Linked DNA regions of Homo sapiens: region 2 is linked to region 1. Evidence: fine-mapped expression QTL. A gene starts in region 1. The other region holds a variant in brackets. All regions are shown on one strand. Distances are between the middles of the regions.

Region 1 (4,386 bases):
TTCATTTTTTGAGATGGAGTCTCGCTCTGTCGCCCAGGCTAGGGTGGCGCGATCTCGGCTCACTGCCAGCTCCACCTCCCGGGTTCACGCCATTCTCCTGCCTCAGCCTCCCGAGTAACTACAGGCGCCCGCCATCAAGCCCAGCTAATTTTTTGTATTTTTAGTAGAGACGGGGTTTCACCGTGTTAGCCAGGATGGTCTCGATCTCCTGACCTCATGATCCGCCCGCCTCGGCCTCCCAAAGTGCTGAGATTACAGGCGTGAGCCACCGCGCCCGGCCAGTTCTCTTTTTTTAGAGAGAGAGATGGGGTGTTGCTTTGTTGCCCAGGGTGGTCTCAAACTCCTGGACTCAAGCAATCCTCCCACCTCAGCCTCCCAAAGTGCTGCAATTACAGGTGTGAGCCACCACGCCTGGCCCATAGTTCTCTTATTATGAGTGAGGTTGGTTGTCTTTTCATATGTTCAGGGCCATTTTTATTTCTTCTTTTGTGAGCTCTCCGTTCACATCCTATGTCCTTGTTTCGTTTTGTTTTGTTTTGCTTTTTTCTATGGAAGTTCTTTATCTATTCACAAAATTACCGTTTGTGATATGAGTTTCAAATGTTTCTTTACAATTTGAAGTTTATTTTTTGACCTTGCTTGTATATTCATACAATCCATGTTCTATTTCATTCTATTTATGGTGTCTAGCTCTTACACTTTTAAAGGACTTCCCCGTTTCGAGATTATAAAATAATCTTCCACATTTTCTTCTAAGTGCCTTTATGCTTTCAGTTTTCACTTTTAAATGCCGACCATCTGGAATTTGGGAGCTGGGTGACCAACCTTCGCCGTTGGGAGACACGGATCCAAGTTCTGTTGCTGTCATTCAGATGTTTAACTTCTGAAAGATACGTTCCATTTGCGGAAAATACATCCTCTTTTTCTCAGTGATTTAAAATTCTCTCCTGAGCAGAAATGAAGTTCCCCTAGGAATGTAGGCCTATTCTAGTCCTTATATTCTGCCCATTGGCATGTCTCATGGGCTAGGCATCATTACCACAATTTTAACATGGAGCTTAATGCTAATTGGGCTGTTTCATGATCCCCTCGTGTGGTTTTTCTTTCAGAATTGTCATGGCCATTTTTGCTAGACTACTTCTTCACATGCACTTTAGAATCAGCTTGCCTGGCTCTAAAATAAATCCTGCATAGGCAATTCTAATGGACATCCTGGCTAAGTATCACAGTTTAAATCAAATATTATTAACAATTCTAATAACACCTCCCATTCGTACTCTACCTACTTTTCAAAGCAGTTTCACTCTTTCACCCACCTGGCCTCCTTGGGGTTAGAAAGGACAGGAGTTAGACAATTCCGCACACGTACAAAGGAGCTTCAGACTGCTTCCAGCCCAGCCCCAGATTCCAGCCAGACCTTCCCTTGACGGCCCAGGCCTCGCCCTGAGGGCACCTCGGGTTCCAGCTACCTCCGGGCCCCCAGGACCACCGCTTCCCCCGCCCCACGCCAACCCCTAGATCTGCCTCGCCCCCGCCTGAAGAGTCGGATCTGAACCAGGCCGGCACCACGGAGATTCCCCTGCGGGCCGCCCGACGCCTGGTAGGTGGTGGGCTCTTCCCGGCTGCCCCGAACACTTTCCTCTGTCCAGCTCTTCCCGTGCCCCGGGGCTGGGGAAAGCGTCCGGCAGCCCCGCCGCTCCCTGGCCCCGTCCCAGGAGCCACCCCACCGTAGGGCTCCAGCCAGGGTCCAGGCGTGCAGGCGGCAGAAGGTGGACGGGACGCGCCAGCCCCAGGCCTCTCCTCCCGCTCTCCAGCCGTTTTTCTGGGGAGAAACACCTGCACCCAGCTGTCCCTCCCTCCTACGTGAGTCCTCCTGGAAACCAGGTTGGAGGAAGAAAGACGTCCTGTGGACAGGACGGGGTGGGGGCATGGCCCTGGGGACTCCTCGTGACAGAGGGTCCTGCGGCAAGAGGGTCTCCCGGGCCGCGGAGGCCCTGCCTCACCTGCAGTCCTCCGGGAGCCCGCGGCCGAGCAGAGCGGACACTAGCTGACCCCGAGCAGGGGAGCGACGGGAGGGCGGAGACGGCAGATGCACGGGTGGGGGCTGCGGCCCCGCCCAGGCTGCGCGGTTTCCCGAAACCAGCTGCGGCCCGGGGGCCCGGCAAAGGGGGTTCCGCCCGGAGGAGCGGACCGGGCGGGAGAAGACCGAGCCCCCGCGCGCCCCCTGCGCTCCCACTCGCGCACACTTGCACGCCGGCCCTGGCCGGGCGGGGCTGGAGGCGAGAACGACCCCACGGGCTTTCCCAGGGCCGTCCGCCCGCGGACCCTCCCAGCTCCCCAGAGCCCAGTGACCCTCGCGCAGCAGGAGAACCCCAGACGGACCCCAGGCCCTGCAGCCTGTCATGAACCCGAGGGGCTGAAGTTCAGCCCCACCCCCGCCTCCCCTCCCCGCCTCCCCCTCCAACTCTCAACCCACTTCTCCAGCCAGCGCCCCAGCCCTCCCGCCGCCCGCTCGCAGGTCCCGAGGAGCGCAGGTGAGGCGGCACCCCACTCCCGGCGGCCCCCGGGCCTCCTTCCGCACGCACCCCGAGCTGCCTCCGCACAGTTGGAGGAGCGTAGGAGGGACCCCCACCCAGGGATGACACTCCAGGAAGGGGACTGCAGAGGAAGCCAGGTGCGGCCCCGGCTTTTGACCTACCTCCGCACCGCAGCGCGGTCCTTCACGGGGCAGGGGCGGCGTGAACCCGTCGGGCGTGAGCAGCAGTCGGTGGAGCGGGAGGTCGGCGGTGGCGGGGATGGGGGTATCCGGAGCGCAGCCGGGGCGCAGCTGCTGGCACAGGAGCTCCACAGGCAGCCAAGGACTCGGTCCTGTCCCAGAGCCTGCGGACTGTGGAGGGGAGGCCGCAGGAAGAGCCCGGGAGGAGGGGGTGAGGGGTCGAGGTGTGGGGCGCTGCTTGACCCAGACGCCAGGGCCCTGGGAGGAGGATGAGGGGGACAGAGCAGATCTTGGGCGAAAGGGGAGGTTCCCGCAGGCTCTGTAGTCGCCGCAGTTCCAGCATGGTCAGCACCCCCTCTGCTACACACATTCCCCTCGTGAGGGGCCAGGGGTGCGGCCCTGTGACCAGGACAGCCATTCATTGGGTGACTTTGAGCCACCACTGGCCCCTGACCTCCCCAACTCCAATGAAATCTGCGAAAATCTTCTGACAGCCGTTCCTCTCTGGTGCTCCCTTCCTCATAGACTGTGTCCCTGACAATGGGAACAGCCGACAGTGATGAGATGGCCCCGGAGGCCCCACAGCACACCCACATCGATGTGCACATCCACCAGGAGTCTGCCCTGGCCAAGCTCCTGCTCACCTGCTGCTCTGCGCTGCGGCCCCGGGCCACCCAGGCCAGGGGCAGCAGCCGGCTGCTGGTGGCCTCGTGGGTGAGTGTGACGGCCTGCCTCGTCGGGCGGCGGGAGGAACTCCCCACCTCCAGCCGCAGCAGCACTCTCTGCCAGCCTCCCTCTGAACAGGACACCGAGCCAGTTATGTCTTCTTACTTAGCGATGTGATTCTCTGGCCTTCTCAGTAAGAGCCTGGGGAGGGGAGGCTCTGGGCTGAAGGGGTGTGGAGGAGCCACTGACCATGCAGAGTCCCAATCAGTGGAGCCCTGAGTCCATCCTTTCCTCTGGGCCAAACTCAGGATGGGCCGGCTCTCCTCTCCTTCCTTTCCCTTCTCTTTTCTCCTCCTCCTGCCTCTTCTTCTTTCTCCTTCTCCTCCTCTTTCTTCTCCTTTTCTCTTCTCTTCTCTTCTCTTCTCTTCTTTCTTTCTCTCTCTCTCTACCTCTCCCTCTCTTTTTGGGGTTTTAGCGGTTAATCCCTGCAGTGGCAGGTCCACCTAGGAGCCGGGATCTTGGGTCCTTTGTCTTTCAGGTGATGCAGATCGTGCTGGGGATCTTGAGTGCAGTCCTAGGAGGATTTTTCTACATCCGCGACTACACCCTCCTCGTCACCTCGGGAGCTGCCATCTGGACAGGGGCTGTGGTGAGTAGAGCAGGACAGTGCTTGACTGCCTGTGAGAGGGGTGGGGCATTGCTCTCCTGATTGCCTTCCTCCAACATGGCGCCACAGAATGCTGGCAGTCGGAGAGATCTGATTATCTAGGACCATTCCCTGCCTGTTCAGATGAGCAAACAGCTGAGGGCGGTGGTGGCATGTCCTATTCACACTGTCTGCTCTCCCATACCCTTCCCAGTGCTGTTCCCACCAGGCTGGCTGCCTCTCCCTGCCTTCAACAGTTAATGTCAACTAAGGATCTAAGGACCTGCTCATCTCCAGATACTTGCATTGAGATGGGGAAGGCAGAGCGTTCCAGATAGTATGTGGTCCCCCAGGAAGC
Region 2 (4,386 bases), 21 kb after region 1:
AAATGATCAACACCACTAGGCATTAAGTAAATACAAATTAAAACCATGATCAGATGCCACTACACACAAATTAGAGCAGGTCAAATAGAAAACACAGACAATACCAGATGTTGGCCAGAATGCAAAATGGTACAGTCACTCTAGAAAATGCTTTGGCAGCTTCTTCCAAATTTAACCCTACATCTTATGACTCAGTGATCACACTCCATGATATTTACCCTAAAAAATTAAAGCTCATGTTTACACAAAAATCTGTATGTGAATGTTTATAGCAGCTCCATTTATAATTACCAAAAAACTGGAAGCAACACAAATGTCCTTGCATGGGTGAATGGATAAACTGTAGGAACATCCATACACTGGAATACTACTAGCAATAAAAGGAATAAACTATTGATACACACAATCACATGAATGATGTGGGGGTTGGGGGTGTTTCTGGGGCAATGAGCTATTCCTTGATTTGGTGATACATTAAGTTTGTTTTATAATTATTCACACAACTATATATGCTTAATGTTCATTTGTATGTATATTTTATAATTAAAAAGAAAACTGAAGAACCCAAAATTCTGTCAAAGTCAAATATCTTTAGACAAATCTTGAGGACAAAGGGAATGGAAATTCCATCAAAGTGGTGCAATGACCTGAGTAGGAGTTTACAGATTATAATCTTAACATCATTATGCTGAGGTAAAGAGGCCAGTCCCCAAAGGTTACGTACTGCATGATTCCACTGATATGATACTCTCAAAATGGAAAAATTATAGTGATGGAAAACAACTCAATGGTTCCCTGTGGTTAGGGCTGGGAAGAGCATGTGACTGAAAAAGGGACCCCCCAAGGAAGATTTGTGGGGTGACAATACTGTTCTTTATCCTGATCATGGTGTTGGTTACATGAATCTGTACATATGTTAAAATTCACAAATTGTACACAGAAAAAATGATGAGTTTTGCTATAATAATAATTGATAATGATAAGAATCTAAAATAATAATGAGTTTGAGATGAATTTGCCTGTCTCTATCTCAACGTCCCAAAGTTATCTCCAGATGGGAATATTCATTTTCCCCATCAAAACAGGAACTTCAAGCCTGTGGTTTAGATGTGTTTTCAAATACACAAATTGCTTTTGAATTTTTATTTTGAATGAAAGGTTGCGGTGGCACGACATCTGATTTCCTACAGAAGAGAAAACCCGAGACATGGGACTTTCCGAGGCAGTTTGGGAGGGGGCAGGGTGGCTGCAGGGAGAGAAGCTGGGAAGCTGGGAGAAGGCCTGAGAAGTGGGGTGGAGGGGAGCTGCTTTCCCAGACTCTGACCCTCCAGACACGAGACACAAAGGAGGTTGCCAGATTCTGAGAGTAAAAGACCATTTTCCAGCAGAAGGAAAAACTGGGTTGACATTCATTTATCTGACTGAAGAATGGTAAGAATTTACATCCAACCTAACCATTAAAGGACTGATTTAGAAGCACTTAGAAGAAAAATTCATACCTTCTTTAGCCTGAGAAAGTAATTTACCAGGTCTTTATTTCAGTTTTACTCTGCCAATGTTTCTTAGGACCTTAATGATTAACAAGTTCAAAAACAGAATTAGAACAAGATTAATTTTAAATTCAAAAGCCTGGTTCCGTATCACAAGCCAGCTAGATGTGATTAATTCTGCCGCCTAGGGGCTACAAAAAGTTTTCCCCAGGGAAAGAAATAGAAAAGAAAACATTAACTCTTTCATGAAATTATGTGAAAAATATTAATTCATTAATTGAACAAATGTGTATTAATATCTCTCATGTGGCAGGCACTGTCAGCACTGGAAAGGGAACTGTGAACAGGTTGGACAGTCCCCTGCCTCCCCCAACCCACAGTGACGTTGAGGAGTGAGGGCCAAAAAGCCATGACATTTTCCAGTCTTCGTCTGGCGCGCCCCAGGCTACCTGCTCTGCTCCAGCCAACTAGTCAGAATCACACCATTACATCCCCCAGGCCCCAGAGTTACAGGGCAGGCAGGGTTTTTCCTACTGTTTCACTGTCTTCAGCCAGTTTCTCCTTGTCCCACCTCATCGGCTAGGACACACAATTCAGCAAACAGGATTTCCAGTTCTGAGCTGGAGCCAACCCCCGTCACAGCCCACCCTAGCTGAACATCCACCGTGATGCTGGCCTACTCCTGCCCCAACCCTGGCCCAGTGAGATGCAGGGCTGCCGATTCATTAGGAAGACCCTCTGCACTTGAAAGAACAGTGTGGAAACAATCTACAGGAAAGGATCTTCTTGAAAACATGAGTGCTACCCTACAAAGAGCCCAGGAGTGGCCTCTCCTCCCTCCCCCACCCAGTCAAGGCTAGGGGCACAGAGAAACCTGCCTCCTCCCCAGCAGAGGCAATGTGACCCAGGGCCCAAAGTAGAATGCCCTGAGAATGCAGCCCCAGTCCCCCAGCACAATCTGGTCACCTTTAGCCTCAAAGACAAGGATTTCTCAAACAAGACATAAAAAGCACCAGCCATAAAGAAAAGGACTGATAAGTCCAAATCCACTAATGTTAAAACTTTCTGATTCTCAAAAAACGAAGGAAGGAAATGAAAAGATAAGCCACATAATCTGATAAAATATTAGTCAACACATAAATAACAAAGGACCAATTCCAGAAGGTGTTAAATTGAATCATA[T/C]GAAACTGCCATTTTTTGTAAGTCAAAAATGGTCAAGTGTCAGCAATTTCACATGAAGAATTCTTAAAAATCATTAAGGCGGACAACCCAACAGAAAAAATTGCCAAAGATCTGACACTGTACATAAGAGGAAGCCCAAATGGCCAATAAATAGTGGAAATGTGTTCAACCTCATCAATAAACCAGGTAGTCAAATTAAAACCTCAATAAGATAACATGAACTAAATCCACAATATTCCACAAAAATTAAAGTCTGGCAATACCAAGTGTTGGTTAGGATGTGGAGCAATGGGAACTCTTGTACACTGCTGGCAGAAATGTAAACTGGTACAACCACTTTGAAAAACAGGCATGAACTAGCAAAGTTGAAATATATGACTTATGACTCCACCATTGCATTTCAAGGTATACACCCAGATACACGAATTACCAAGGTCATGTGTGCAGAAAGGATTATAAATACATTGTTCATAATATCCCCAAACTAGAAACAAGACTAATATCCATCATCATTAGAATGAATACACCCATTGTTGCAAATTCCTAGAGTAGAAAATTACACACTAATGAACAACCTACAACTACATAAAATTAAGAAAAATAAATAAGACAAAAAAATTATCTTTGGTAAGACCCTGTTTATAGAAAGTTCAAAACAGACGAAACCAACTTATATCCTTCAGGAATGCCTACAAAAAAGGAAAAAAATCTAGAGAAAAGCAAAAAAGTAATTTGCACAAGAGGTATTATATGGCTCATTTCTGGAGAGAGGGAGAAAGGGAGGGGTTGTTATTAGGGGACTGGGGTTGCTTCTGGGGCAATGAGCTATTCTTTGATTTGGTGATACATTAAGTTTGTTTTATAATTACTCACACAACTACATATGCTTAATGTTCATTTGTATGTATATTTTATAATTAAAAAGAAAACTGAAGAACCCAAAATTCTGTCAAAGCCAAATATCTTTAGACAAATCTTGAGGACAAAGGGAATGGAAATTCCATCAAAGTGGTGCAGTGACCTGAGTAGGAGTTTACAGATTATAATCTGACATGAAAATCAGAAATTATATGAACCAAATCTAAGAGGGACAGCTAAATGGCCACCGCCTTTAAGTAACAATGTCCCTCTTTTAGACTCTAAATAGGATTCAAGGGATCCCAGTAGTGTCACATAGATGTAGACACATCCCAACAGTATTCTCTAGTTAAGAAGTTCAGCAAGATGGAAACTCATTTCCCAAAATCAAGAACCACAACTTACAAAGAGAAATTATATGCTGAGCAGCACTTTTGAGGCAGGAGATGGTAGAGAGGGAACCAGAGACTGGATACAGGAAGAATGAGTGAGAGCATGAGAGCAGAAGCAAGGTGAAGGGGCGAGTGAGCAAGAAGTGAGATATGAAGCAGAGGCTGAGCAGCCAAAACAAAAGTGAGATTTTAAAAAAGTGAGTAAGGAGCCCACATGGCCGCCTAGATCTGGACCAAACCTGTCAGGGGCAGCTCCTCAGAGATGAGCATGCACGTTAGACAGAAAACATATCCTTAAAATGTTCCCGTATGGTAATTAGCTACTTAAGGTTCATGCATATGGACTGCATATTATGCACGTACTTAAAATTATGGGATGGAGGTGACTCGCAAGAAGTCACAAGCGCACACGGGCCATAGTATTAAATAACTAAGCAGCCCACCTGTCCATCAAAAGGCAGACA

Evidence for each region. PIP is the estimated chance that this variant, and not a neighbour inherited with it, causes the effect. A credible set is the group of variants that fine-mapping cannot tell apart.
Region 2: its variant is the best candidate, but not a certain one, in a credible set for the expression of TMEM176A in blood mononuclear cells (TOPMed, PIP 0.80).

What each region holds. Positions count from the first base shown.
Region 1 is chr7:150,798,295-150,802,680 of GRCh38, forward strand. TMEM176A (transmembrane protein 176A) reads left to right here and starts at 2,475. Exons shown (of 7, transcript NM_018487.3): 1 at 2,475-2,534; 2 at 3,242-3,430; 3 at 3,921-4,031. The coding sequence starts at 3,257. It overlaps TMEM176B (transmembrane protein 176B), which reads right to left and starts at 2,070. Exons shown (of 7, transcript NM_001101312.2): 1 at 2,004-2,070. RefSeq lists enhancers at 1,067-1,766, 1,767-2,466, 2,467-3,166.
Region 2 is chr7:150,819,096-150,823,481 of GRCh38, forward strand. It overlaps LOC105375567 (a long non-coding RNA gene), which reads right to left. Exons shown (of 5, transcript XR_928171.3): 5 at 1-4,386. Among named protein-coding and RNA genes, the nearest start is that of TMEM176A, 21 kb to the left of the region's middle. The variant T/C (reference allele first, on the strand shown) is at 2,673.